Homo sapiens: one gene and its partners. The protein of the gene in region 3 interacts with the protein of the main gene of each other region in a biochemical or structural test. Each region holds a gene or a part of one and is shown on either strand. Other genes may lie near its edges.

Region 1 (5,907 bases), on a different chromosome or scaffold from region 3:
AATTCTCCTGCCTCAGCCTCCTGAGTAGCTGGGATTACAGGTGTGTGCCACCACGCCTGGCTAATTTTTTTGGTATTTTTAGTAGAGACGGACAGGGTTTCACCATGTTGGTCAGGCTGGTCTCAAACTCCTATCCTCATGATCTGCCCACCTTGGCCTCCTAAAGTGCTGAGATTACAGGCGTGAGCCACCACACCTGGCCCAGAGGCTCCTGGACTTTGATCCAAAAAAGGTTTGGCATAGAGCAAAGTGATCAGCCAGACAGTGATGTGAAAATGCTGAGTCCATCAACTATGAGTTTTTCTTGTCAGTGGATGTGCTGTGTCTCCAGGCCCTGGAGGCTGTGCAGGTGGTTGTGGACATGGATGGGGCCTCTGTAAACAACCTCGTCTGTTTTCCCCATTTTTGGGGGCTACTTCTGCACTGGGCTCTTGAGGTTCTAGTCCTTTCTTAGCCCATTTTTAGTCCATTCTTATCCATTCATGGGTAAGAATGAAAAGTGGGGGAGGGTTATTTTATTTTGACCGAGGAAGGGAGGTCATGGGGGCCTGATGGGGTGTTTAGGGAGAAGGCCTGACGTGGAGCCCCACACTGACTCCTGCTGTGCCCGGCAGCACCTGCAGCTGGTCCGGCAGGAGATGGCCGTGTGCCCCGAGCAACTGAGCGAGTTTCTGGACTCTCTGCGCCAGTATCTGCGGGGGACCACTGGCGTGAGGAACTGCTTCCAGTGAGTGAGCTGCCGAGGCGTGGGTGGGATGGTGGCAGGGAGCTCTGCCTGGCAGTGGAGGAACAGGGCAGGACTAGGCTTTGCCCTAAGTAGTACAAGTTGCACCCCAGGGACACACACAGCTGGATGCGTAAGAAGTGGGTTCAGGTCTCTACTGAGGTTCCTCCCAGCCAAGCAAATGTGGCAGGTGTCTTCATCTCCCTGGCATCAGCTTACTCATCTGTAAAGGGGGGACCACCCCCAGGACTCCTTGCTGGGGTGATCATGAGTGCATATACAATCAAGTGTGTGAATCTCAAGTGTGAAGGGCTCCAGCTGGGCCTGGTGTGCCCCGTGCGCTCAGTCAGCCTCAGCTGCTGCTGTCACAGGGGTTCCTGCACACTTAAGTCCAGGCCCAGAATGTAGTATTTGCTCAGTTAACCACTGAGGAAGGAGAGGAGAGTCGGTAGCTGAAGGGAAATGCCCAAGTCATGTAGTTGCCCTTCTCCCCCTGATGTGCTGAGATGTCCAGGGCGGGGCAAGCGGCCTTACCTTCAAATTCCTGTTCATCCCACCAGGCTGATGTAGCTCCTTGGTAAAGCTAAGGCATGTGGCCAGGGCCAGAGTGGAGGGGGTTGCAGAAGACAACAGCCCTTTGTTCTTGCTGGTAGTGGTCCCCCGCCCCCCGTTTCTGCAGCAAGGCTCTGCCCAACTCCCTTCCCAGGGCTTTCTTCCATCCCCAGAGCACACACTCATTCACCCCATTGCCTGGGGACATGGCTGTGAACCAGGCAGGCCAGGTCCTAGCACAGGGTCTTTGAGAGGGGTCTTCTTGGGCCCCCTGTGCACTGAGGCTTGAGTGACAACAGCCTGACCTGTAGCACGAGGGGAGGAGTAGCCTGGGCAGGAGTGCGGCCGTTCCCGAGACTCGGCGTGGCCACGAGGGGCCATTCTTGAGTAAGTAGCCAGGATGGGGGGGCAGGACCCACTCCACTCCAGGAGGACAGACTGCACAGGAGCAGGGGCCAGACTTGATCTTTTTCCATTACGTGAATAAGTGGGAGGCTCCAGGGTGAAGTAGGGCCACCCCGATGCGCTGTGGAGAGGAGGCACGGTGGACGTAGAGGCTCTGGTTTGTCGAGTTGGAGACGGCAAGCCTGGAGAGCCAGGTGAGATTCTACTTCCCAGGCATGGTGCACCTAAAGCTGCACGGAGGTGTGTCCACCCCAAGATGGAATCCAGCCCGGCCCCTTCCTCTAGGCTGAGCACTGTAGCCCCTCCTCCCCAGCTTTTGGCCCCCGCTTTATGGTCACTTGGGGCTTCCTCATTGTAGTGCACTTGCAGAGAGGATTCTGGGGCGGCATAGACTATCAGCACCTTTAAAATGACGTGAGTGCGGGCCCCTGGGTCCCATAGAGCAATGGGGGACTTGCCTGCAGCCCCTTCCTCTGTGGCCCAGCACCCCCTCCCCTCAGCCTCCTTTGGTCAGGTCAGGTACAGTGCAGTGGGGGTGTTGCAAGGATTAAATGAGAGGACAAGTAGAAGGAAGAAGAGGGAAGATGCTTTGATTTTTAAAGGTTTTTTGATTTTTAAAGGTTTTTTGAGACCAAATCTTGCTTTATTGTCCAGGCAGGAGTGAGTGTGTAGTAGTGGAAGCTCAGCTCACTGCAACCTCTCACCAGAGGGTTTAAATGAGTCTCATGCCTCAGTGTCCTGCATCGCTGGGATTACAGGGATGTGCCACCAGGCCCAGCAAGTTTTATTTTTTTTTTTTTTAAAGAGACAGTGTTTTGCCATGTTGGCTAGGCTGGTCTTGAACTCCTGACCTCACGTAATCCACCTGCCTCGACCCCTCAAGACTTCCCAAAGTTCTGCGATTACAGGCGTGAACCATCACATCCAGCCACCTGGTTTTGTTTAAATAAATGTTCACACTTTAACATGACATTTCAGCTGGGCACAGTGGCTGAAGTTTGCAATCCTGGCACTTTGGGAAGCCAAGGTGAGAAGACAGCCTGAGCCCAGGAGTTAAAGACCAGCATGGGGAACATAGCAAGACCCCATCTCTATTGGGACAGTTTTTGAATTAGGCCGAGTGGTGCACTCCTCTAGTCCCCGCTACTTGGAAGGCTGAAGTGATTGTGCCACTGCACTCCAGCCTGGGCAACAGAGTGAGACCCTATCTCAAAAGAAAAACTACACTGCATTGATTCTATTTAATAAATAGCTGTTGGCCACTATAAGAAGCCAGGCCTTATTCCCTGTGCTGGGGTCACCCTGTCGAGTCTCGATGGAGGTCAAGACAGGAAGAAACATTGAAGGCAGCCGTTGTGTATAGTGGTGGGTCTCAGGCCACCCCAGGGGAACAGCACTGAGGTGGCCTTGGTTGAGCTCCAGCCTCCTCCCCCCGACCATCTCCTGTTGCAGCATCACTGCCGTGAGGCTCTCAGATGGCTTCACCTTTGTCATCTATGAGTTCTGGGAGACAGAGGAGGCGTGGAAGAGGTGAGATGCTGGGTCCCCACAGCAGGTGAGGGAGACAGAGGGAAGTGGGGGGGCTGTCTTCCTGGAGCCAGGCATCCTTGGAGGGGAGGGTAAGGCCGAGTCCAGTCAGCAGATTCCCGAGGCATCTACCCGCTGGCATGCTTGCGTCAGTAAACCCTGGTGGAGGCAGGAGCTCTTGGTGGGTAGTGAGAGCCCCCACCACACTCAGCTGGGCTTTCCTGCTTTCCCCAGGGTTGCTTCTGTGCCCCTAGAGCACCTTGTCCTCCTGGAACAGCCCTGGGGGCCGAGGCACTGCCTTCTTTACCACCCTGTAGAGTTGAGGGCCTAACCTAGAAGGTGACTCAGTCCCCATGTGATCAATTGTTCCAGCGACTAACCTCCCCTCCAGCTGAGTGCCCGGTACGAGGGACGGAGATGGGGTAGGGTGTCAGCAGCTCTGATGGGCCTTAGGCCTTTGTCCTCTGCTCAGCACACATCTGGGAGAGGGTGGAGACTATTGCTGATGCGCCAGACCCCACAGGCAGGAAGCGGGGCCTAGGGGTAGCCCATGCCCCCATCTCCTGCTTCCCTGGTAAACACTCACGGTTTGCTGACAAACTCAGGACCCCAGTGGGAACAGGGGCGGTCATGAGAAGTGAGAGTGTCCCCTCCCTGTCCGTACTTCAGTGACTCATAAAACGAGGGACTAAAAGCCTTCGCAGCTTCTGTGTTGTCATGGGTCCCAGGCAGAGGATGGCCCCACTCCTCCTGCTAGGGTAAAGGGGGAGGTAGAGGCTCTGTGCAATGAGTGGGGGGATCCCGCTGCCCATTTATAGCTCACAGGGAAAAAGAGAAGCTCACTGCCCACCCCAGAGTCAGCCTCCCTGGGCACCCCCTCACCTTCCCACAAAGGCTCTGAGTCCAAAGACCCCCCGTGCTTATTGATAAGCTCCCCATTTTGGGCTAGAGCTAGGATTAACAGGGGAGCCACACGCGGAGCTCCACTCCTGCCACCCCTGACTCACACATGTCCCTGCGTCACAGGCACCTGCAGAGCCCCCTGTGTAAGGCGTTCCGGCACGTCAAGGTGGACACACTGAGCCAGCCTGAGGCCCTCTCCAGGATCTTGGTGCCAGGTAGGGGGCAAAGGCCTGGAACTGCAGTGGCCACCTGACTGGAGAGAAGGGCAAGAGCCTAGAGGCTGCCCCATATCTCCCGGGGACTTGCCTGCTTGCTGTGGGCCCACTGTCAGCTCCTGCCACCAATGCCAGGCTCAGAGCCAGCCCTGAGGTGGCCCCACATACAGGTATGCCTGCCAGAGCTTGCACCAGAGCACCCCCTCCACGGCCCCCTACTTCCAGCCAGACTGAATTTCCCTTCCCAGGTGTGTGGTTTGCACCTGGGTGACCAGCAAGGACCTGTGTGTCACACAAGGACTCAAAGCCATCCCCCGACCTGTCATTCAAGACGACCACCACCAGCTACGAGGCTGCCCACATTCGCACTCCTTCCCTCTAACGTGTCTCTCTCCTTTTAGCTGCTTGGTGCACGGTGGGACGGGACTGACAGCCTCCCAGAGGCCCGTGGAGGAGCCCACCAGCCCCTTCTTCTTGTGAAGGAAATCCCGTTTTTTTCTAGACAGACACTTTGGTGCAGAAGCTTCTTTTCAATCCATCCTCCACAAGAAGGTGTTTCCCTGTTGTTAAGTGAAGGAGGCCGCCCCTGCCCCCACCTGAGAAGGCAGAGCAGTGTCTGTGCTGCCAGGTCCTGGTGAAGCCCAAGGTTGAAGGGGGCGGCTTCCTGGAGCCAGCACCCCTGCCTCCTGGTCCTGGCCTCTCCCCTACCCCTCACATGGCCACGCATGACCCACACTGACCACACCCTGCCCTCTTCGGTGACATTCTTCTACCTAGTAGGAGTCATGCCCCTGTAGTGCCCAACCTAGCCAGGTAGCCACCACTGTGCCCAGGCGCCAAATAAACCCTGGTTGGGAAGAGCTGTGTGCTCTGTGTCTGTTTCCTGGTTGACAACAGCAGGGGGCCAGGGACCCTTCAAGTGCTCCCAGCCTCAGTTTTCTGAACCATGAAATGGTGGTGGTCACTCTATGCGGTATTTGGGAACTAGGCTCATGCCTATTCAGGAGCTCAGCACCACACCTACCCTCAGGTCAGTAATTCAAAGGACTGGGCACAACTGTCAAAGTCACGGTCAAGGTAGGTAGATGACAGACAGACAGACAAAATCCAGCAAAGAAAGAGGCTCCCGGAGTGGGGGGCCAGGCACGGGGCTACCAGTAAAGGCCCATAGCACTGAACCCTCCCAGCTTCAATGCTGATAGAGCATCACCAATCAGGGATGCAGTCCTGAGTCTTACTGGGGTTCGGTGACGCATACACGCTGACACCTCATGGCTCAACACCCCACCATAAATCACATGGTTGGCCCAGACCACGCAGTGTGGCTCAACACAGACACTGTCACCAGGCAGGACGCTCCAGGGACGGGTGAATGCCTCCCGGCACGTCTGTGCATTAGCCATTCAACACAGCAGGAGACCCCGCCTATCAACTGGAAATCATGTCTTAAGTCTTATTCTGGAAGCTTTGTAACTTCTTCCTATTTCTCAGTCCGGGTTAGCAGGAAAGAAGTCACTCACAGCCCAGTGCAGTGGCTCAAGCTGTCATCCCAGCACTTTGGGAGGCCGAGGCTGGTGGAAC
Region 2 (9,137 bases), on a different chromosome or scaffold from region 3:
AGTAGCTGGGATTACAGGCCCATGCCACCACGCCCAGATAATTTTTGTATTTTTAGTAGAGATGGGGTTTCGCCATGTTGGTCAGGCTGGTCTCGAACTCCTGACCTCCTGATCCGACTGCCTTGGCCTCCTAAAGTGCTGGGATTACAGGCATGAGCCACTGCGCCCGGCCACCCCCACCATTTAAATCAAACAAACTGGCTAACAAAGTTTAAAGACTTTGTAAATAATGGTGACCTTGTAGTCCGGGCACGGTGGCGCATGACTGCAATCCCAGCACTTGGGAGGCGGAGGATCACTTGAGGCCAGGAGTTCAAGACCAGCCTGGGCAACATGGTGAAACTCCATCTATACTAAAAATATGAAAATTAGCTAGGTATGGTGATGCAGACCAGTAGTCTGGTTAGCTAGGCATGGTGATGCAGACCAGTAGTCCCAGCTATTTGGGAGGCTGAGGTAGGAGGATCACTTGAGCCCAATAGGTCGAGGCTGCAAGTGAGCCATGATTATACCACTGCACTTTAGCCTGGGCAACAAAGACTCTGTCTCAAAAAAAAAAAAAAAAAAAAAAAAGGTGATCTTCCAACTATGGAATTCACTTTATTCTTCACATTTCAACTACCAGCATTTTGTAATCTTTTATTTATTTATTTTTCTTTTTTTCCCTCCAAATACCCAGATATCAAGAAGAATATTTTGCAATCCTAATATTAATTTTTAAGGGCTACCAATAATTAGTGCGCTATTTTTATAGCTATTAAAAGCACTAAATTCCTGACTTAAAAATATTGTCCAAATTTTTCATTTTTATAATTAGGTTTTGTCCCCTTTTCTAGTGGTGCTGAGGACTTGTCCTACTTGTCTTCCTTAAGACTGCCATAAATGGTTTGGTGAAACTGCTAAAAAAAGAAGAGGGAAGCAGACACCCTGAAATGTAGATTCTGAACCGATGTCAGTAACCAACTTTTTTTTTTTTTTGAGACAGAGTCTCTCTCTGTCACCCAGCCTGGAGTGCAGTAGTGCGATCTTGACTCACTGCTACCTCCATCTCCCAGTTTCAAGTGATTCTCCTACCTTAGCCTCCTGAGTAGCTGGGATTACAGGTGCTCGCCACCATGCCCAATTAATTTTTGCATTTTTAGTAGAGACAGGGTTTCACCACATTGGCCAGGCTGGTCTCGAACTCCTGACCTCAGGCGATCCGCCTGCCTTGGCTTTCCAAAGCCAAAGTGCTGGGATTACAGGCGTGAGCCACCACGCCTGGCCTCAACTTTCTTTTTCCATAAATAACAGGACTAAAGGTAGTGTTTCTTTTTTGATAACATTTTTAAGAGTTTCAGCCGGGCACGGTGCCTCACACCTTTAATCCCAGCACTTTGGGAGGCTGAGGCCAGTGGATCATGAGGTCAGGAGTTTGAGACCAGCCTGCCCAACATGGTGAAACCCCATCTCTACTAAAAATACAAAAATTAGCCAGGCGTGGTGGCGCACACCTGTAATTCTAGCTACTCAGGAGGCTGAGGCAGGAGAATCGCTTGATCCAGGGAGGCAGAGGTTGCAGTGAGCTGAGATTGCCCCACTGCACTCCAGCCTGGGGGACCCAGCAAGACTCCATCTCAGAAAAAACAACAAAACAAAACAAAACAAAAACGAGTTTCAAAGAACTTTCATAGAAGGGGACTTGTTAGGGTTGGCTCTGCAGATGTAGAATCATCATGTGGTGGTGGTAACTCTTATCTACAGGGGATTAATTACTATGTGGTTATTTAAGGCAGTTTTAATTCCATATTTACTTTCTCCTACTATCTACCCAATTGCCAAGAGGCCTTTCTTATCAGATGGTGTGTGATGGATGACCCAGGGAGTGCAAATTAATTTCAATTGGCCAAACCCAACATAAAAATAGTAAATCTGTTCAAATGACCTACCGTATTTTCACTGGGCCAGTTCCCCTTCCTTCACCCCCGACACAAAACATAGCTCATCTTTTCAACAGGAATAGGTAGAAAAATAAGAATAATAAAATAAAATAGACATGGCTTCTCTGTTTCTCCTCTTCTCCCTCACAGCCACCTCCATAGTGAGAGGTTCCTAATGGTTCTGTGTCTGAGTTACACCACCGTGGGCGTGAAGCACCCTCAGCCATTTTGTCTCTGCTTCAAAACTTCCTATAATGCCTGCCTGCCTTTTAAGGCAGGATATATGGTCTGTCTGGCCTCCTTTCTAGCTTTAGATCCCCTTAGGCTGTTGTAGCGTTGTAGTGCCCGCCTCAACTGGCCTAATCCCCACTCTCTGATCCTGTCCTGCCTTTTCCAGAAATTATCTTCTGGTCCCTTGAGTCTCCCCTCCTGTAACATGCATCCTCATCTTTATTCTGCCAGCATTTTTTTTCAATACCACACTCAAATGTTACTCAAGTCAAAGGCTTCCTATGAGAGCAGGGGTTGTGCCTGGCGTTCTACAGCCTTTGGTTCACACCCCCTTTTTTTTTTAGAGGGGGTCTTGCTCTGTTGCCCAGGCTGGAGTGCAGTGGCGCAATCTCGGCTCACTGCAACCTCTGCCTCCCAGGTTCAAGCGATTCTTCTGCCTTAGCCTCCCGAGTAGCTGAGACTAGGTGTGGGCCACCACTAACGGCTAATTTTTTTTTTTTTTTTTGTATTTTTAGTAGAGAAGGGGTTTCACCATATTAGCCACGCTGGTCTCGAACTCCTAACCTCGTGATCTGCCCGCCTCGGCCTCCCAAAGTCCTAGGATTACAAACATGAACCACCGCGCCGGACGCCCGGTCTTTTTTTTTTTTTTTTTTTAAGACATTTCGGTCTCCACGTTGGTCAGGCTGGTCTCGAATGCCCGACCTCAGGTGATCCTCCTGCCTCGGCCTCCCAAAGTGCTGGGATTACAGGTGTGAGCCACCGCGCCCGGCCGGTTCACACCCTTTATTTGTATTTATTTTTTTTTTTTTGAGACAGGGTCTCACTTTGCCGTCCAGTCTCAAGTGCAGTGGCGCCATCTCGACTCACTGCAACCTCGACCTCCTGGGCTCAAGGGATCTTCCTACCTCAGCCTCCCAAGTACCTGGGACCACAGACGCGAGCCACTGCCCGGCTATTTTTTGTATTTTTTTGTAGAGACGGGATTTCGCTATGTTGCCGAGGTTGGTCTCTAACTCCTGGGCTGAACCTATCCTTCCGCCTCAGCCTCCCAAAGTGCTGGGACGACAGGCTTGAACCACCGCGCCCGGCCTGGTTCACACACTTTAATGGCACTTACCACATACTGCTAGGCATTGAGGTTATTTCTGTAACATCTCTTCTTTTCTACTAGATTCTATGAGGGCAGGAACTAGGTCTTATTTTTCTCTGAGGACAAGGACTGTTAGACAAGTGTATGGAGACGCATCTAGACCAACTGCCTGACTTCCTCTTTCCTCTGGGTTTACTTCTCCCTCCAAGAGGAGGGTTGTGTGTGTGAGCGGGGCGACTGGAAAACATAGTGTTCAGGACGTTGTATCTTGTTCCAGGAACTAAGTACACGCCTGGGTAACTAATGTGGAGTACCTCTCCTTCCCCTGTTGCTATCGCCCCTCTGTGGCTGCTTGGCAAGTAGCTCAGTATGAAGAGCTGACGGAATTCTGCGGTGGGCCAGGTGGCTCTGGCGTCGACTGTTTAAGGCGACTGTTAATGACTACAACACACCATTGAGTCTTGGTCCCAAGGCGCTGGTGCACATGGTACTTCCCGAAATCCCTGTAGGGCCGCTGGAGCAGGAGCCCCGATCCCACGTTTGGGCAGCTGACTCGCCTAAGGCCTCCAGCTGAAAGCGGAATTGCAGGGGTGAGAATGAGCAGACCTAACTACCGGGCTTCTCGCACCTGGCCTGCATTTATTTAGGACCACGATAACCTCGAAGGCCAGGCTGGGGTGCCCGATGGGTCGTGGGCTTGCTGCCTAACTCCCTGAGATCGGCGGGCTGAACAGAGCTTCGAAGTGTAGCGCCATCCTGAGCAGAGGAAGGGGCGCCCGAAGGCCGCGTAGCGGGCGGCAGGGCGGGAGGAAGTAGCAGCTGCTGCTCCCCGCCCACCCCTCTCGCGTGTGCCTTTCCGCTCCACTGTTCGCCGGTGAGCTAGGTGGCGCGAGAGCGGAGGGGAGAAAAGACAGCGGCTGCAGGAGCCGAAGGCCGCGGCTCGAGGTGGGGCAGGGGCGGGCACGCGAGCGTGCGTGCGTGGGCGCGGTCTATAGCACGCCGCGCGCGGGGCGGATGTCCGGGCCGGCTGGGCCGGGGCCGCGGAGGAGATGGCGGAAGGTGGAGGCTGCCGTGAGCGACCGGATGCGGAGACTCAGAAGTCCGAGCTTGGACCCTTAATGAGGACCACACTCCAACGCGGGGCGCAGTGGTGAGCTCCCGGCTCGCTCTTCCTCTATGCAGAACCAGGGGCCGAGAAAAAGGGGCCTCCTTTTTCTCGGCTAGAGTAGGGGCTGGGCGGGGATGGTATGTAGTGACCCTGGAAGAGTAGCCTGACACCTGCCCCTCAGGAGAATAACTCCAGGATCAGCTCTGGGAAAGCGCAGGCGGGGCCTGAGTGTCGTCTCAGTTCATTTGGAGCCCTAGGGGGCGGGCCCGGCGGGGGCCAGGAGGAGGGATGTGGAGAAGGGGAAGGTTGGTGGGGACCCTAAGGGTGGGGAGAGCCCTTTACCATGAGGACTCGCCGTGTGACCTTGGGCGAAGGTGTCACAGACCTGGATTCCTCACTGTTAAAACCAGGATAGCAATATTTGGCTCACCGACCTCAGTGGGTTGAGGGGAAAATCAGAAGTAGATACTTTGTAACTTGTAAACTGCCAACAGATGTCAAGGTCAGAAGCTGAACAAATGTCTGAGAACCCCGATTATTTTGGTAGCAAGTGTCAAAAATATTTGCGGCAGCAGTGTCTTGGAGTGGGAGAGGAGGATAGCCTAGGTCCTGGAGCTAGATAGAAGATGAAGGGTCCAGAATTTAGAAGACCCAGGCTGAGTTATTAGGCATCTTAATAGATTGTTTAGTAGAGGGGACAATACTTTGTACTACTGGAGAGATTCCTGGGTGGTGTAATTGTGTAGGAGTAGAAAAACTAAGGCTAGACTTTGCATCGAGTATGATTGTTACCCATCTTGTTTGTTTTGTTTTGTTTTGAGATGGAGTTTCACTCTTGTTGCCCAAGCTGGAGTGCAGTGGCGTGATCTTGGCTCACGGCAACCTCCGCCTCCCGGGTTCAAGCGATTCTCCTGCCTCAGCCTCCCGAGTAGCTGGGATTACAGGCTCACGCCACCACACCCAGCTAATTTTTTGTATTTTTAGTAGAGACCGGGTTTCACCATGTTGGGTAGGCTGGTCTCAAACTCTTGACCTTATGATCCACCCGCCTCGGCCTCCCAAAGTGCTGGGATTACAGGTGGGAGCCACCGTGCTCGGCCCGAGTGTTACCTATCTTTAAGAAATCATTGTGGTGATGATCTGCCGAGGAATTGAGCAGGAGAATAGAAAAATTGGGGTTAGGAGGAGTACAGATAACAGCTTATGTATTCACCTTGAGCTAACCAGTTTGTGAAAGGCAGGGTAAACAGAGGTACTTTTTTTGTGTTTTCTTTTCTTTTCTTTTCTTTTTTTTTTTTTTTTTGAGAAGGAATTTCGCTCTTGTTGCCCATGCTGGAGGGCAATGGCGCGATCTCGGGTCACGGCAACCTCCCCCTCCCATGTTCAAGCGATTCTCCTGCCTCAGCCTCCCCAGTAGCTAGGATTACAGGCATGCGCCACCACGGCCGGCTAATTTTTTTTGTATTTTTAGTAGAGACGGGGTTTCTCCATTTTGGTCAGGCTGGTCTCGAATTCCAGATCTCAGGTGATCGCCCGCTGTGGCCTCCCAAAGTGCTGGGATTACAGGCGGAAGCTACTGCGCCCGGCCTAGCAGAGGTACTTTTTAAGTTAACCTCTATAGGGTTCATAAAGAATACTCAGCAGAAGTAGAGGAAGTTTAAGATAGACTAAAATCATACAGTAAAATTGTATGGAAGGTATTGCTCAAGGGATTTGGAAGAAAAATAGCATTTTAGAGATGGATGTGTTTATGGATCCTTGTGACCTCTGGGAAGCTGCCTGACCTCCTCTCACATTTGTTGGTTATAAAATTTTAAGGATGCACCAATATAATTGTTGATGCTTTGTTGCTCCACAGAGATTGTTTTAATTGTAAAACAGCATAGAGATACTTTTTTTTTTTTTTTTTTTTTTTTTTTTTGAGACGAAGTCTCGCTGCATCACCAGGCTGGAGTGCAGTGGCGCGATCTCGGCTCACTGCAATCTCTGCCTCCCGGGTTCAAGCGATTCTCCTGCTTCAGCCTCCCGAGTAGCTGGGATTATAGGCATGCACCACCATGCCCCGCTAATGTTTGTATTTTTAGTAGAGACAGGGTTTCACCATGTTGGCCAGGATGGTCTCGATCTCCTGACCTCGTGATCCACCTGACTCAGCCTCCCAAAGTGCTGGGATTACAGGCGTGAGCCACCGCTCCCGGCCAGCACAGTGATACTTTAAAAATATAAACAGGTCTGGTGCAGTGGCTCATGCCTGTAATCCCAGCACTTTGGGAAGCTGAGGCAGGAGGATCACTTGAGGCCAGGAGTTCAAGACCAGCCTGGGCAACATAGCAAGAGCTAGCCTCTACAAAATAAAAATAAAAAAATAAATTAGCCAGGCATGGTGGTATGTGCCTATAGTCACAGCTACTCAGAGGCTGAGGCAGGAGGATCACTTGAGCCCAGGAGTTTGAGGCTACAGAGAGCTATGATTGTGCCACTGCACTCTAGCCTGGGTGACCCTCTCTCTAAGGAAATAAATAGGTAAATAAAATACCACATTTGCTTACATTTAAGTAAAAAAGTGGTAAGTTGAATATGAAGCACAAATTAATGCTTTTTGACAAGATGAACAATAGGCACTATTATATGTACATGTGTATGTGTATATTTATATATGTACACGCATGTTATGTACTTTTTTTTTTTTGACAGGGTTTTATTCCTGTCACCCAGGCTAGAGTGCAATGGCATGATCTCAGCTCACTGCAACTTCTGTCTTCCGGGTGCAAGTGATTCTTGTGCCTCAGCCTCCCGAGCAGCTGGGACTACAGGCATGTGCCACCACGCTCAGCTAATTTTTGTAATTTTAGTAGAGATGGGGTTTGTTGCCCAGGCTGGTCTTGAACTCCTGAGCTCAAGTGACCATCCACCTCGGCCTCTCAAAGTGCTGGGATTACAGGTGTGAGCCACTGCGCCTGGCCTTGTGTGTACATTTTTGGAACTCCTTTGGTCCTTAAAGGAAAACTGAAGTGGGTGGTGTTTCTAACCCATTTTCAGAAAGAGCATTAGTTTAGTGCTGTTCATGTCAAGCAAAACAGTGTAACCAAACTGTCTGCCTGGAGTGGGACTTCTGTAAAGATCATTATGAAATTAATGACTTGTGGCCGGGTGCGGTGGCTCACGCCTGTAATCACAGCACTTTGGGAGGCCGAGGTGGGCAGATTACCTGAGGTAGGGAGTTTGAGACTGTCCTGACCAACATGGAGAAACCCTGTCTCTACTAAAAATACAAAATTAGCCAGGTGTGGTGGCACACACCTGTAATCCCAGCTACGGGAGACTGAGGCAGGAGAATCACTTGAACCCGGGAGGCGGAGGTTGCGGAGAGCCGAGATCACACCATTGCACTCCAGCCTGGGTAACAAGAGCGAAACTCTGTCTCAAAAAAAAAAGAAGTTAATGACTTGTTTATTAGCAAACATGATTTTACCCATGAAAAGACTCCATTTAGACTGAGTGTGGTAGCTCATGCATGTAATCACAGCACTTTGGGAGGCCAAGGCAGGAGGATCACCTGAGATCAGGAGTTCGAGACCAGCCTGGCCAACATGGTGAAACTCCATCTCTACTAAAAATACAAAAAAATTAGCTGGGCCTGGTGATGCATGCCTGTAATCCCAGCTACTTGGGAGGCTGAGGCAGGAGAATTGCTTGAACCCAGGAGGTGGAGGTTGTAGTGAGCCAAGATCATACCACTGCACTCCAGCTTGGGCAACAAGAGCGAAAACTCCGTCTCAAAAAAAAAAAAAAAAAAAAAAGAGGCCAGGTGCAGTGGCTCATGCCTGTAATCCCAGCACTTTGGGAGGCCGAAGTAGGCGGATCACCTGAGGTCAGGAGTTTGAGACCAGCCTGCCCAACATGGTGAAACCCCGTCTCTACTAAAAATACAAAAATTAGCTGGGAGTGGTGACAGGTGCCTGTAATCCCAGTTAGTCAGGAGGCTGAGGCAGGAGAATCGCTTGAACCTGGGAGGCAGAGGTTGCAGTGAGCCAAGATTGTGTCACTATACTCCAGCCTGGGCGACAGAACAAGACTCCGTCTAAAAGAAAAAAAAAGAAAGACTGCATTTAAATAAGCATTTTGAAACCACTTGTTTTCTTTCTTTTATTCACTCTTTGAACAATCATTTCACTTAATGGATGCATACCCTGGGCCAGACTCTCTGTGCCATGTGGGGCCTGGGCCCTGCTCTTGCTCTTGTGACAGTGTTTTTTAGTGGGTATTGCATATGCCCCAAGTGGAAGGACCATAAAAAAGATTAAGGAAGCAGCTGCAGAAATTTATAATCTCAGCTTTTCTGCTACAGTAAATTTCTGTCTCTCTCTAGGTATCTTATTGACAGCCGGTGGTTCAAGCAGTGGAAGAAGTATGTGGGCTTTGACAGCTGGGACATGTACAATGTGGGTGAACATAACCTATTTCCTGGCCCAATAGACAACTCTGGGCTATTTTCAGGTATAGTAAATGTTGCTTTTCTAGCTAAACATTCACCTGGGCAGTGGCCTGATGTTATGTGCATCTGTAACATGGACGTTGTGAACTTTCCTAGTGTGAGGAGATAGAAACAAGTATCCTCATTTTGCATCTATAGCAGAAGTCTTTGCAAACCCTTAATGAGAAGTTAAGCTACTTTTTTCCCTTAAATTAACTGCATCTGATAAGAGTATGCTTCTAACATTTTAACTTTCTCTCTTTGCAAATTAGTTCTGCTAGCTATTTCACATTTTAAGTTAGTATATGGAAT
Region 3 (8,917 bases):
AAATAAACAGATTTAAAATGGCTCCCCCAGAGTCAAAATGGAATTACTGACACCCCTCAGAAGCAGAAGTTTTGGTTCCCCAGCAGGCCTGAGCCCAGCCCCAACTCCCAGTGTCCCCTTCGAGCCTGTGAATGGTCTGGATCCAAATGGACCTCTGCCCGTTAAATTGCCCCTCTTTGAGAGCTAAGAGGCCCCCAAATCTACCCCCTCCAATCCTGAACCCTCATGGGGCCCTATGAGTGTGTTGCCAGCCGCCACCACCTGCCTGGGGACAAGAGGTCAGAGGCTGCCTTTCACGTGGACTCGGGCAGCCACCTCGTCTCTCTCTCTCTTCCAGGACATGAGGGATGGAGCAGGACTGGCAACCTGGAGAGGAAGTCACTCCTGGTCCTGAGCCCTGTTCAAAGGGCCAGGCTCCCCTCTACCCCATTGTCCATGTGACAGAGCTCAAACACACAGACCCCAACTTTCCCTCCAACTCCAATGCTGTCGGCACCTCAAGTGGCTGGAACAGGATTGGCACGGGCTGCAGCCATACCTGGGACTGGAGGTTCTCCTGCACCCAGCAGGCCCTTTTGCCCCTACTAGGAGCCTGGGAATGGAGCATTGACACAGAAGCAGGAGGAGGAAGGAGAGAGCAGAGCCAGAAACCCTGCAGCAACGGAGGGCCTGCAGCAGCTGGAGAGGGCCGAGTCCTCCCAAGCCCCTGCTTTCCATGGAGCACTTGCCAGGCAGCCATTCACAAAGTGTGTCGTTGGCAGGGATGCACCAGACCAGCTCTCCTGGCACCATCCCTGGCCACACTCAAGGAACACAGTTATCCCTGATGCTCTTGGCCTCTCTCCCTGAGCAGTACTCACCAGGGCCCACCTGACTCACGATAGCCCCTGCCCAACAGGTACAAGTGGAGCTGGTGCTGGCCCCGGGCTGCCTCCCACCCAGGTGCCTGGCCTGTGGCTCCAAGGTGGACTCCCAGGCCCAGCACCACCAGCAGCAGCAACAGGCGACTGTCCAGTGAGGCCCAGTGGGCCACTGAGGAGCCGCCTCTACCCAGGGATCCTGCCTCCCACCACGGCCCTCTCTAGGGCATCTGCATTGAAGGATGCCACAGCCTTCTGCCAATCTGACCATCCCAGGCTAGAAGGCTGATGCAGCCCCAGACCACGCTCCAGATTCAAGGGCCTTGCTGGGGGCAAACAAGGTGGAACATAACACGTCTGCCAAAGTGAAGGAGGACTCCCCAGTCCCATCACCCAGAGCCCTGCTGGTGGGGTCAAATCATCGGCGCCTGCCTCACGGGCTGGACTGGTGCCATGCCAGCTGGGATGCCCAGTTTGGGAGAAGCCTGACCAGGGCCTCTGTTTGGCAAGGCTTCCCTGGCAGCCCTGGGTACCTGCCTGTGTACCCCCGTTCTCAGGGTCTCCCCACCTTCTGTGCTGTGGGTCCCCATGCTAAACAGCACTAGATACCGATAACCTTCTTGACTATACTGAAGCCACCTTCCTGCTGCCCACCAGCCTCAGTGACAGCAACAGACCCCTCTGCCCAGGCCGGCCTCACACGGGGCTAAAGACACCCACGGCTCCTGCCAGCAGGGTCCACACAGGCCACCTCGCTGCCCGTCCTCTCCCTCAGCCCCTCCTTAAGCACTCCTGCAGGCTCTCCCAGCTGCTGCCAGCACATCCCGGGTGAGGCTTGCCCGGACCCACAGGCAACCTGGGCCCCTGCCAAGCCAGAATCCACTCTCAGCTGTGCCTTTCTCGGCCCTGAGCAAAGCAGATCAGTGGAGTCAGAGGCACCTTTGGGGCAGACAGGGGAAGAGGAGTGCATTCATTGGGGAAAGGTTGGGAGCTACCCAGCCGTAGGCTGGCAAATCAGCTCCTGGCCGGGGGCACCCTGACTTACAGGCTTTGCCTGATTTCTGTGGTGTAAATTCTCCCCTTGTGCCCAGTTTCAAGCTACTAATGTGTCGTGGACCGTAACTGGGGAGCAACACAGAGTCAGCTGGCCACGATGCCAGTCACTGCTGAGCTGCCAAACCTTACGCGTCCCAGGGGGCACCTGCCTAGAGGCCAGGCACTGCACTGGACCCTCAGACACAGCTTGTGCAGCCTGCTTAGGAGCTTGGGAAATGACTGTCATCTGTGATCTTGCTGGTCCCAGGAAGCCCATTTTACAGATGAGGAAACTGAGGCCCAAAGGCACGAAGCGACCTCTCTCAGCCTCACCAAGAGCACTGGAAGGTGGTGTAGGGCTGCGGCCGTGCGCACAGAGAGCACAGCAGCAGGAAGGCTCCTGGGCCTCCAGCTCCCCTCCCTCAGAAGCCTCCCAGAGTGACAGGAAGGTCAGAGGCCCCGGGGAGGGGGCGGGGCCAGGATCTGGCAATTTCCTATCCCTCTCTGTTGGCTCTGTGCATCTAATTACTCCTTGAGTCATCTGTTGCTAACCAGGAGGGGAAATTAAATATTAATAATGTAATACTTCTCTGTGATTACCCCTTGTTGGGGACAGATCAGAGGGCAGATGCTGCCCCATACAGACAGGGGACACATGCTGCGGAATGTGCATAATGCCTCTTGAAAGAACCACCTTATAGGATTCCACGCGGTCAGACTCAAAACTGCTGCTGCTTCCTGCCTTCCTCCTCACCTCCCCCAACCTGGCCACTTTAATTAAAACTCCATTTAATCAAAACCCACACATCTTCTGGTTCCTCATATGTCGCACTAGCAAGGCCCTCTGTACACATGCCCAGATGGTGGCTATACCCCCCAGAGCCTGCTGCACGGAGGTGCCCACCAGCTTCTAGGCAGTGACCTGCACATCTGCTCCTGAGTGCGGCTAAGAGCAACATACAGGACACAGTGCACGGACTCGGACCCGCTCCAGCCATGCCTGGCCTGTTCCTGGGCTCCAGAATCCCAGCCTTAGAACCCTCCTGCTGCTTTTCCATAACAAATGTTTACCAAGTACCTCCACCAGGCCTGGCAGCACCCCAACTGCTGGGCCAAAGGGAGGTGTGCCCCCGTTGCTGTGCCTGGCCCCATCTGAGCATATGGCAGGGGACCTCAAAGGAGGAAAGGACCCAGGACATTCCTGGGAGGCGGCTGCTGCCCTGCAGTTTCAGGCACTGCAGGCCACTCCCTGTCTCCACAACATTGGCTCAGCTAAGAGGAGTCGCAAATCAATTTCAAAGCGCAAGAGGTATATGAAGGCTAAGAAAGGTAAGCAACAGAATAAAAAACATGGAGGTGAATTCATTCCAGTAGGAAGGAAGGTAATACAGTAATCTAATAATGATTTCAGAGACCTTTAGAATCTCCAAAGAGGCAAAGAAAGGAATGGCATCCGTAGACAAGAATGAGAACTTCTGAACCGACTGGCGGAAATGAAACAAGGACAGGTGGATATGAACAAGAAATAATACAAAATCCAGGGACTGAAAAATAGAAGGACTGAAGTAAGGGATGTGGTGAGCTTCAGGCACACGTACAGTGGAAGAGACGACTGGGGATCTGAAGCTAGTACTGAGGAATTCTCCCAGAAACGCCATGAAGAGACCTAGTCTAGGAGGAAACGGTTGAGAGGCATGGGGTGGACTGAGAAGCATCAACAAGTGGCTTGCGGGAGCTCGGCAGGGCACGGCAGGTTGTGGGCCCCACTATGACTGGCTTTTGGGATGGCCCAGGGGGGCCTGGGCATGAACCTCCCAGAACCCAGGGCCCCAGGATCCCCATACCCCTTCCAAACTCATCAGCGCAGGTGCCTTCCTCACTGCCCAGTGGTAAGCAGCCACCCAGCACGGGCTCCACTTCCCTCCTGACCTCCGGGGCTGCCCGGTGGCCCTTACTTCAGGCGCTGGGTGCAGGCTGGGCCCGGGACCCAGAGATACACCTGGCATCCCTCCCCCACAGCCCGGGTGCAGCTGCAGCTCTCTGCTCCTGGTGGCAGGATGTGGGCAAGATGGGGCCAAGACCCAGCTCCCTGCAGCTGGAGGCTAAGGCTCTGAGCCTGCCTCACAGAGCAGCCCCCACATCGCAGCCCCGGGGCCAGTGCTGGGGGCCCCAGCTCCTGCTCCCCACACCCCCATGTGTCCAGGCTAGGGGCCAGGAAGGCCACAGCACCCCCTCCTCCCCGCCTGGGGGCCACTCACCCCCTCACACGAGGCTTCACCTGACAGCCCTCCTCCGAGGGGCCGCACCCCGCACCAAGGTGCTGGGGGCCCACGCTGTGCTGAAAGCAGCTTGGCTGGGGGCGGCTCCTGCTCCATGTCACAGTCCCTGAGGCCCAGGCAGAGCTTCCCCTCTGCACGCGGCTGCTCACATGTACACAGGCTGTGGTGAGCCACGTCACGTCACGTGAAGGATTGGCACCTGCACCTCCCTCAGATGGCGGGCAACAGGTACTATGCCGCTGAAGGGGGGACAAGGGAGTGTTTCTAGATGGCCCCGCGGACACAGAGCCCAGGAGTCCTGGGCGGGACCCTGTGGGAGGCTTGAAGGGGCAGTGCTGGGTGCAGGGCCTCACAATGCCCCAGGGTGGCTGCAATGAGGATGGGAGGGGTGAGGACCGGCTGTTGGGTCCCTGGGCAGGTGCGACGAGGCAGCCCCGGAGGCTGACAGGAGGGCAGGGTGACCAAGCAGAGCCTGGCCACTGCTTCTTCCCCACTGAGCAGCCTCCCCCAGGCTGGCTCAGGGTTTGCAGAGGCCACTGAGGGACCAGAGGCGAGTCCTCCTGTGACACGGGCAGACCAGCCCGGGGCCTCTGGGGAGAAGTCTCCTGCCCAGATGCCAGAGGAGACACCAAGTGGCACCATCGGCCTCCCTCTGCTTGGCCAGCTCCGGCAGCCTCTCCACCAGGTGACGGCCGATGCCAGAGACCAGGGCTGCAGCGGCACATCCGAGGAGTGGGCACAGAAGAGCAGCAGCAGCCCCTGCCCAGTGACTCCTGGAACAAGCTTCCCCTGCGGGGTGTTGGCGGGGGGTGGTGAGAGAATCCCCATGGCAACTCACAGAAACATCATCTGGGTGAGACTTGGAGGAGAAGGTGAAGGGAGAGAGGTATCGAGAGATTCTAGCAGAGAAAATGCCCGAAGCCAGGGTCCTGCCTTCCCTGGGCTCCCATCATCCCCTGTGCTGGGACGAGGGGCAGCTGCTCTGCTGCTCCTCTCTCCACCTGATCCTCCCCAGTCCCTGGCCAGATCCATGGAGTCCAGGCTGCAGGGGCCCAGGCCTCCTCCGCCATGAAACTGCCTCTTCCCACCACCCAGAGCCCCAGGTTCTGCACAGGATGTGGGCAGTTGTGTGGGGGCTCCTCTCTGCACCCCAGCTCCATTCCCTTCCCCATCTGGGCTCCTCTGCTCCTTGCAACCTCTGGACCACCCACCTCCTAGGACCAAGCCCCTCCTGTCAATGGCCCAGACCCTTCTGGGAGCTAGAACCCTCCCATTCACCAGCTCAGCTCCTGCCTGTGCAGTCTCCTCTCCACAGCACCCCCACCACACATGCCCTAAATCCCCTCAGCCTGTGCTTCCCGCCTTCATCCATCCATCCATCTTCTGTCTGTCCTTCCTCTGCTCTCCTGCGTGCTCAGGGCTCTGTTTGCGCTGCAATAGACAAGACAGACCCCGCAAACACGGTTGGGAAGGCAGTTCTAGCTCATTTGGGGTTAGGTGGCTCGGGTATTAGGTCTGTGAGAGGGTACTAAGACCTTCTTTGGAGTGTCAGGACACAGCTGAGAGCCACCAGGGGCTGTGGTCCCACACAGCAGGCACTGCCCAGGCCTCACCTGGACTTTGCAGGACGTGATGCTCTCAAGTCACATGCTGGCTCCCAGGCCAACTACCATTCATATGTCCCTCTGCCAACAGCAATCCCTGTGGTGTCCCCTGACCCTCAAGCCTAACACCCTCCCTCCCGGGTTCCCCGCTCCAGCACACACCCCTCACCGGCCCTCTGGTCTGCCCTAAACCTTCCCCCACTTGCTCCCAAGCCAAGGCCTTTCCACATTAGGCATTGCTAAGATCATCATCCTTGTTCTACAGATGAGATATCAGATTCCCCGGGACAGCAACCTGCTCAGCGAGTGGGTCGAGGAGGCAAGACCAGAACCCAGACGAGAGCACTGAAATCTCCAGCACATCGCGTTGCCCATGAGGCAGTCATTGCCATTGATTGCCCTCCTCCATCGCGACGCAGGGCATATTTGGGGATCTGTAATTCACAGACTGATATGGGAAGAAGCCCAGCACAGCTCTCAGACCAGCCAGGTCAGCCTTGGCCTAAGGCCCGCCTCTGGCCAGAGGTGACTGGGCTGCCCCTGGCTTCCTGAGGCAAGGAGCAGGAAAGCTCACAGCTCAGCCAGCTCAGCACTGGGGAAACAGGGGACACGGATGGAGGGGTAGTGGCTGGGATTTGCCTGAGAAACTCTAGGACTAGGGAGAGGCTGGGAGACCCCAAAAAGCAAGCGCAGAACAAGGAGGGACTGACACCGTGGCCGTGGACCAGCCTGTGAGGCGCCCCTGCCATGGATCTGCCGGGATGTTGGGCGGGGGGGGGGGGGGTGCTGCCCACAGGGCCCGGCCTTCCCAGCCCCACCCAAGGCCTCCAGGAACGGCCAAAGCAGGGCCAGTGAGGAAGCCCCGACCCCGCAACAGCTTCCCAGGCCCGCGGTGCTCCACAGAACCCTCCACCATGGTCCCCAGGGCTGGGGCACCCTGGGGCAGCCCTGGCGCGTCATGGAGTATCGGCAGGGTGCCCCGCCGGGGAACCCAGGGGGAGCCGGCAGCAGAGGCAGGGTGGAGGCGGCCTGAGCACCTGGCAATAGGGGAGAAGGCCCTGTGTGTGGCAGAGCCCAAGAGAGGAGGTGCTTCAGGATGGCGACGGAGGGCTGGCTTGACCTGCGGCTCACCCTCCAACAAGGGCCACAAACACCTGCGCGTCTTTGCAGGGCCCCGACTCCCCCAGCCTAGGACCCAGCCCTGGGTCTCCCTCTTCCTCCCATGGTACAGTCGGGGCAACTAAAGTCTGAGTGCGGGACACAGGGACCTCAGCTCTGCCGGCCCGCGGCCTCCTCCTCAAGCCCTTGGGCCGCCTTGCGCCAAATCCCTCGAGAGCCGCCACCATTCCCGCCATTCCTACCTCCGCTCCGGGCAGCCAGACAGACGGCCGGGGCCAGTCCGAGGCGCGCACCCACCCCCATCCGTCCCCCGTCGTCTCCTGGGTCCCCCAAACCCAGTTCCCGCCACCACTGTCCACGGAAGACGCCAGCGCTCGGCCCAGCGTTCCTGATTCCCCCTTTCTCGGCGCGTCCCGGGCGCTCGGGTATCTCTGCCCGCGCCTCACCTTCCCGGGGAACCGGTCTCCGCCCGGCTCCTCCACCTGGGGAATCTCCCTCGCCCCGGGGCCCGGCCCGCCACCCCTCAGGAAGCGCCTCTGCGCCCCCGGTCCATCCCTGCTGGAGGAGCTCGCGAAGGTTCATGCGAGCGCGCGGGGCCGGTCTGCGGCGCATGGACGGACGGACGGACTGACGGACGGACGCTCCCCGCCCGCTACCTGCGGCTCCGCACCCCGCGCCGCGCCGGCCGCCGCACTTGCCTTCCCTCCCCGCCTACCCCTGCGCGCCTTCCGGTGCAGTTTGGGACAGCTCGGAGGGTCCCGCACGCGGCGCCGCAACTGCGCCTGGGACGTGACTGTGCCTGGGCCCTTCACAGGCAGTGCCGGCAGCCGCCGCGGGGCAGGACTCGGACCCCGCGCCGGGGAACTGGTCTCGGGGCGGCGGGAAAGGAACCCTGAGGGGAGCAGAACCCCAGCCTCCCAGTCCTCCCGGCCCCGCACCCCCGACGGCCCCACGCCGCCCGGCCACCAGCCCCGGACCCCCGGCACCCCGCACCCCGGACCCGGCACCCAGGACCCCGCACGCCAGACCTAGCACCCCGGCTGACCTGCCGCTCGCACGCCGGCTCCCGCTGTCTCGGCGGCCGCTGGGTCTCCGGCTCCGGCCGCGCCGCTCACGGGCGCCCCCTGCAGGCAGCTTTGAGACCCGCGCTGCCCCCGCCCCGCCCCGCTGCGCGGAGAAACCGAGGCCGGAGGGGGACCCGAGGCATCGGCCCGCGAGGCCCGCAGGCGATCCTGGAAGGACGATCCCGCAGGTGTCCCTGTCAGGACGAGGCCGCGACGGGCCTGGACCGCGCCACATCCCCCGCCTGCGGCCCCCCAGCGCGCTCCTCCCGGGCTCGCATCCGTCCCGCCGCTTCCTCAGCGCCACACTCACCTCCCTTCCAGGAGTCCTCGGGCCTGGGAGTCCCCTTCCCCGCCCCTTGGAGCGCTCCGGGCCCCACCCCCACACTCCCTCTTTTCTTTTTTTGAGACGGACTCTTGGTCTTTCGCCCAGGCTGGAGTGCAGTGGCGCGATCTCGGCTCACTGCAACCTCCACCTCCCGGGTTCAAGCGATTCTCCTGCCTCAGCCTCCCGAGTAGCTGGGATTACAGGCGCCCGCCACCACGCCCGGCTAACTTTTGTATTTTTTAGTAGAGACGGTGTTTCACCATGTTGGTCAGGCTGGTCTCGAACTCCTGACCTCGTGATCCGCCCGCCTCGGCCTCCCAAAGTGCTGGGATTACAGGCGTGAACCACCGGGCCCAGCCTCCCTCTTTTTTAAGAAGCCCCCATTGCCGGCCGGGCGCGGTGGCTCACGCCTGTAATCCCAGCACTTTGGGAGGCGGAGGTGGGCGGACCACGAGGTCAGGAGATTGAGACCATCCTGGCTAACAAGGTAAAACCCTGTCTCTACTAAAAAAGTACAAAATTTAGCCGGGCGTGGTGGCATGCGCCTGTAGTCCCAGCTACTCGGGAGGCTGAGGCAGGAGAATCGCTTGAACCCGGGAGGCGGAGGTTGCAGTGAGCTGAGATCACGCCA
Region 4 (5,320 bases), on a different chromosome or scaffold from region 3:
CTGGGGGCCTGGACTCCTGGGCCTTAGGGAGGAAAGACCAGGGCCTAGACTCCTGGGTCTGAGGGAGGAGGGGCTGGGGGCCTGGACTCCTGGGTCTCAGGGAGGAGGGGCTGGGGGCCTGGACTCCCGGGTGTGAGGGAGGAGGGGCTGAAGCCTGGACTCCCGGGTCTGAGGGAGGAGGGGCTGGGGGCCTGGACTCCCGGGTCTGAGGGAGGAGGGGCTGGGGGCCTGGACTCCCGGGTCTGAGGGAGGAGGGGCTGGGGGCCTGGACTCCCGGGTCTGAGGGAGGAGGGGCTGGGGGCCTGGACTCCCGGGTCTGAGGGAGGAGGGGCTGGGGGCCTGGACTCCCGGGTCTGAGGGAGGAGGGGATGGGGGCCTGGACTCCCGGGTCTGAGGGAGGAGGGGATGGGGGCCTGGACTCCCGGGTCTGAGGGAGGAGGGGATGGGGGTCTGGACTCCTGGGTCTCAAGGAGGAGGAGATGGGGGCCTGGACTCCTGGGTCTGAGGGAGGAGGGGATGGGGGCCTGGACTCCTGGGTCTGAGGGAGGAGGGGATGGGGGTCTGGACTCCTGGGTCTCAGGGAGGAGGAGATGGGGGCCTGGACTCCTGGGTCTGAGGGAGGAGGGGATGGGGGCCTGGACTCCTGGGTCTGAGGGAGGAAGGGCTGGGGCCTGGACTTCTGGGTCTGAGGGAGGAGGGGCCGGGGTCCCCAACTCCTGGGTCTGAGGGAAGAAGGGGCTGGGCCTGGACTCCTGGGTCTGAGGGAGGAGTGGTTAGTTATCTAGGGCTGACATAACAAAGTACCTCAAAATTAGTGGCTTAAATCACAAAAACTGAAGGTCTCCCAGTGCTGGAGGTCAGAAGTCTGAGATGAGGGTGTCAGCCCTGGCTGCTCCTGAGGCTGTGAGGGAGGATGAGTCCCCGGTCTCTGGCTTCTGAGGGTGTGCCGGCAGCTTTGGTTTTCCTCGGTTTGTAGAGGCGTCACCCCAATCTCTGCCTTCACCTCCACATGGTGTCATTTCTGTGTGTCTGGGTCTCTGTACAAACTTTTATAAGACACACATCCTATTGGATTAGGGCCCACATGAATGACCTCATCTGAACTAATTATATCTGCAATGACCTTATTTCCTAATCAGATCACATTCTGAGATGCTGGGGGTTAGGATTTTAATATAAAGTTTTTTGTGGGGGTGGGGGAGACACAATTTGATCCGTGCTGAGTCCATTTTGTGTTGCTCTGACAGAAGACCTGAGGCTGGGTCTTTATAAAGGAAGAGGTTGATTTGGCTCAGATTCTGATGGCTGGAAGGTTCAAGACTGGGCAGGTGCACTCACTGAGGACCTCCCTCATCCCTGAGGCTGCTGCTGCTTCTGGGGGAGGGCAGAAGGATGCAGCTGTGTGCACAGAGATCACATGGTGCTGAAGGAAGCAAGGGAGAGAAAACCAAATTCCCAAATTCCCAAGGGTGAGCACTCACTCACCCCTTAAGGCAGGCATTAATCTATCCATGAGGACTCCACCTCCAAGACCACACAGCTCCTTATGAGGCCCCACATCCCAACACCTGCCACACTGGGGCTCGAATCTCAACATGAATTTTAGTGAGGACAAACGATATCCAAACCATTGCCACCCAAAAGAAGTGGGCTGAGGCCTGGCGCGGTGGCTCACACCTGTAATCCCAGCACTTTGGGAGGCTGAGACAGATGGATCGCCTGAGGTCAGGAGTTCGAGACCAGCTTGGCCAATATGGTGAAACCCCGTCTCTACTAAAAATACAAAAATTAGCTGGGTACGGTGGCTCACATCTGTAATCCCAGCTACTCGGGAAGCTGAGGCAGGGGAATCGCTTGCACCTGGGAGGTGGAGGTTGCAGTAAGCCGAGATGGCGCCATTGCACTCCAGTCTAGGGCACAAAGTGAGACTCCCTCTCAAAAACAAAACAAAACAAAACAAAAAACAAAAAAAAAAACCTACAAAAAAAATCAGAAGCGTGCTGGGAGCTTGGGGGTCCTGGGCGAGGAGGGAGCCGGACGCAAAATCCTCAGGTCCTGGGGGAAGATGGACTGTGGGCAATGCTGAAGGTCAGTGTGACGTGATGCAGCCTGGCTGGAATGTTCCACAGGCATCTCCAGCTTAATTTGGTCAAAACGGAATGCCTGATTTCCCCTTAAATACTCCCTTTCGACCACCTCAGTCATGGCACCGTCATTCACCAGCTGCGGCGGCTCTCAGCAAGTCCTTTTGGCTCCTCTTTCAAGACTCCTAGCGTGGCCCAACGTTCTCCACCTCCACAGCCACGCCATCCTGCACCGCACAGCTTCCTCTCACCTCCCCGCTCGCCTCCAAATTATTCTCCCTGAAGCAGCCAGGGGCCCCTCCTGCAACCTCAATCCAAACACGTCAGGCCCCTGCCTCCTGCCCTTGCACGGCTTCCATCTGCTAAGAATCCAGCCAGAGGCCCTCCTGGGGCGGCCCAGGCCCCACGCGACCGGCCGCCTGCCTCTGCCCTCCCCTCCCGCCGCACTCCCCTCTTCGCCACCAGCGGGCTCCGCGCCTCTTCCTGCCTCTGCCTGCCACGGAGCCGGCCGCCCTGCATGCAGTTCATCCGGGGAGGCGGCAGGAAAGGGTGACATAGTGGCGGGACCCGCTGTTTACCCTGGGACCTCATCTCCCACGACCTTCTTGGGTCGATGACTCCGTTTCCCTGGCACCTGTGGGAAAGAGAAGTGGGGAATTCTATTTTCTCATTTGGAACTCCATTTCCCACCAGCCCCCGGGGCCGCGGCGGTCAAAGCCTCCTCTACCCTCCACAAAAGTACGGGATCTGACTAAGAAAAAGAAGACAAACGCCGCCACGGAGTCTCGGGAAACTGCGACGCCCGGAAAAACCTCGGGTCTGGGTCACCGTGGCTTTGGCGCCGCACAGCCTGCCGATAACTGTAGTCCACCTTCCCGCGGAGGGGCGCAGGGTACCCCCACCGCGGGGGCCTTCAGGCCGGCAGGTGCCTGTGGCCAAGGGCGGGACAGGGATCAAAGCCCGAAATTCCGAAGCGCCGCATCCCATCGGAGAGCTCAAAAGCGAACACAGCGGGCAGGAGGGACTACAACTCGCGGCACGCCTCGGGGCCACAGGCGCCTCTCCCACCCGCGTCCCGGTCCCTGCTGGGACTTGTAGTTTGTTAACTAAAGAGCGCCTCAGCTTCAAAGGCGGGCATGGGAGAGTGACATGGGACCTCCCAATCCGCCATCGCACCCTGCTCGGGATCCACGAGCCCTTGTTCTTTGGGGACACCACACATACCCCAACTGGAGGGCAAAAGGTCACAGACCTTAGCCCAGGATTCAGGGGTACCCCACATGCCAAGACTTCACCTTCATAGAGGCGATCCTCGAATTTCTTTGGCTGTCAAGAATCCCAGGAAAGACGTTCAGAACGCAGGTCCTCAGCCCTATCCTTGACACAAAATGTCCTCCAAAGGAGGCTGATCCTTTGAGAACAGACAAGCCTGGCTCTGGCACTGGCCCACAGTCCTGCCCTCTTAGCCCGATCTAAGGCTGCCCAGCCCTTCAGGACATCCCATCAGCAAGGCCCTTGCAGGACATGGGCCACCTCCCCACTCATCCTTCCCTGACCCTCCCTGAGGTGGTCGCATGTTCTTCCAGCTCCAGGTTGTCCTCAAAGCCCTGGCCCAGCTCACAACCTCACCAGCTTCATCTCCTGCCCCTCAAAGACCTCAAGCCCCATGAAAGCAACGATGGGAACTAGCTGATGGCTGTAGCGTAACTGGCTGATGGCTGTCAAGTAACTTCTAGAATGAATGCTAGACCTTGACCCTGAATCCCTGCATTCTAAACTCTGTCCCCGGCCAATTCCAACTCCAGACTCCCACCATATTAACCTTCTCCCTTTACTCCACTCCTGCTGGGCTCGGGGTGAAACCAGAACAGACCCACCGGGACAGCCCAGGCAGCACCCAGAGACAGGCGGGTCCAGGCCCCTGTCCAGGGAAACAGGCTGGCTCCACGGAGCACCTCGACTCTGTCAACCCCAAGAAATGAGGGGGTCAGCAGGCCAAGTGGTTAAATAATTAATAAGATTACCAACAGCGTGTTAATTACAAAGAACAGTGAGGAGCTAGAGGTGGTGAATTTTCCAAACAGGGAACCAGGATCCACAGCCCCAAGGCCCAGGGGTCCGGCCACCCAGGCGGGGCAGCTCCGTAATAAATAATGGAGTTGGGGGCAGGGGGTCAGGGCTGCTCCTGCTTCTTCTTGACTGAAATCCGCTTCTTTCTCGCTGCCAGCATCTCATAGAAGGGGTCCACACTCACAGCCGCCCTGCAGAAGGGGAGGGGTCCCAGGATGAGGGCCAAGGAGTCCAGGCCTCCAGCCCCTCCTCCCTCATACCCAGGAGGAGTCTCAGACCCCCGGCCCCTCCTCCCTCAGACCCAGGAGTCCAGGCCCCCGGCCCCTCCTCCCTCAGACCCAGCAGTCCAGGCCCCCGGCCCCTCCTCCCTCAGACCCAGGAGTCCAGGCCCCCGGCCCCTCCTCCCTCACACCCAGGAGTCCAGGCCCCCGGCCCCTCCTCCGTCAGACCCAGGAGTCCAGGCCCCCGGCCCCTCCTCCGTCAGACCCAGGGGTCCAGGCCCCCGGCCCCTCCTCCGTCAGACCCAGGTGTCCAGGCCCCTGCCCCTCCTCCGTCAGACCCAGGAGTCCAGGCCCCAGCCCCTCCTCCGTCAGACCCAGGCGTCCAGGCCCCAGCCCCTCCTCCATCAGACCCAGGCATCCAGGCCCCTGCCCCTCCTCCATCAGACCCAGGAGTCCAGGCCCCAGCCCCTCCTCCATCAGGCCCAGGAGTCCAGGCTCACTGGATGGACTTGATCCACTCGTCCTTCTCCTCCTGCGTGGGGGCCGAGATCCGGTACACCATGTGGTTTCCCTCCACCACTCGGCCGTCCGCCTCAGTTTTGCAGGCTTTGATGAGCTGCCCCTTGTTGTTGGGGATGTAAAGTTCAAAGCAGTTCTGGGGACGAGAGAGGAAGGGCGCAGGTAAGAACCAGCCCTGGGCAGAGGAGGCCCCGCCCTGGCAGGAAGGTGTACAGAGAGGGTCTTACCGGTTTCCGGGGGTCGTCCACCTCTCGGATGCTCAGATTCTCCAGGGGGATGATTCCTCGGGGCTCCTTGTCCTGAAGAAGCAAGGTGGACAGAACTCAGACTTCCAAGTCCTCACCCCACCCCACCTCCCTCAGCCCCAGGAGTCCAGGCTCCCAGCCACTCCGCCCAGGACCCCAGAGCCCGGGTCGGGTCACGCTC

Evidence for each region.
Region 1: the proteins of ADORA2A (region 3) and NECAB2 form a complex in vitro, tested with the Homo sapiens proteins (one study listed by BioGRID and IntAct).
Region 2: the proteins of ADORA2A (region 3) and USP4 form a complex in vitro, tested with the Homo sapiens proteins (one study listed by IntAct).
Region 4: the proteins of ADORA2A (region 3) and CYTH2 form a complex in vitro, tested with the Homo sapiens proteins (one study listed by BioGRID and IntAct).

The regions. Positions count from the first base shown.
Region 1 is NC_000016.10:83,997,591-84,003,497, forward strand, and holds the end of NECAB2 (N-terminal EF-hand calcium-binding protein 2), read left to right. Parts: intron 1-614; coding exon 615-727; intron 728-3,133; coding exon 3,134-3,211; intron 3,212-4,234; coding exon 4,235-4,326; intron 4,327-4,727; coding exon 4,728-4,756; 3' UTR 4,757-5,186; downstream 5,187-5,907. UniProt on the Homo sapiens protein: May act as a signaling scaffold protein that senses intracellular calcium.
Region 2 is NC_000003.12:49,335,180-49,344,316, reverse strand, and holds the start of USP4 (ubiquitin carboxyl-terminal hydrolase 4), read left to right. Parts: upstream 1-4,263; 5' UTR 4,264-4,292; coding exon 4,293-4,393; intron 4,394-8,720; coding exon 8,721-8,848; intron 8,849-9,137.
Region 3 is NC_000022.11:24,422,983-24,431,899, reverse strand, and holds the start of ADORA2A (adenosine receptor A2a), read right to left. Parts: upstream 4,302-8,917; 5' UTR 4,154-4,301; intron 2,695-4,153; exon of another isoform or gene 1,536-2,694; intron 1,004-1,535; exon of another isoform or gene 338-1,003; intron 1-337. UniProt on the Homo sapiens protein: Receptor for adenosine. The activity of this receptor is mediated by G proteins which activate adenylyl cyclase.
Region 4 is NC_000019.10:48,478,148-48,483,467, reverse strand, and holds the end of CYTH2 (cytohesin-2), read right to left. Parts: intron 5,194-5,320; coding exon 5,122-5,193; intron 5,031-5,121; coding exon 4,876-5,030; intron 4,346-4,875; coding exon 4,258-4,345; 3' UTR 1,154-4,257; downstream 1-1,153. UniProt on the Homo sapiens protein: Acts as a guanine-nucleotide exchange factor (GEF). Promotes guanine-nucleotide exchange on ARF1, ARF3 and ARF6. Activates ARF factors through replacement of GDP with GTP.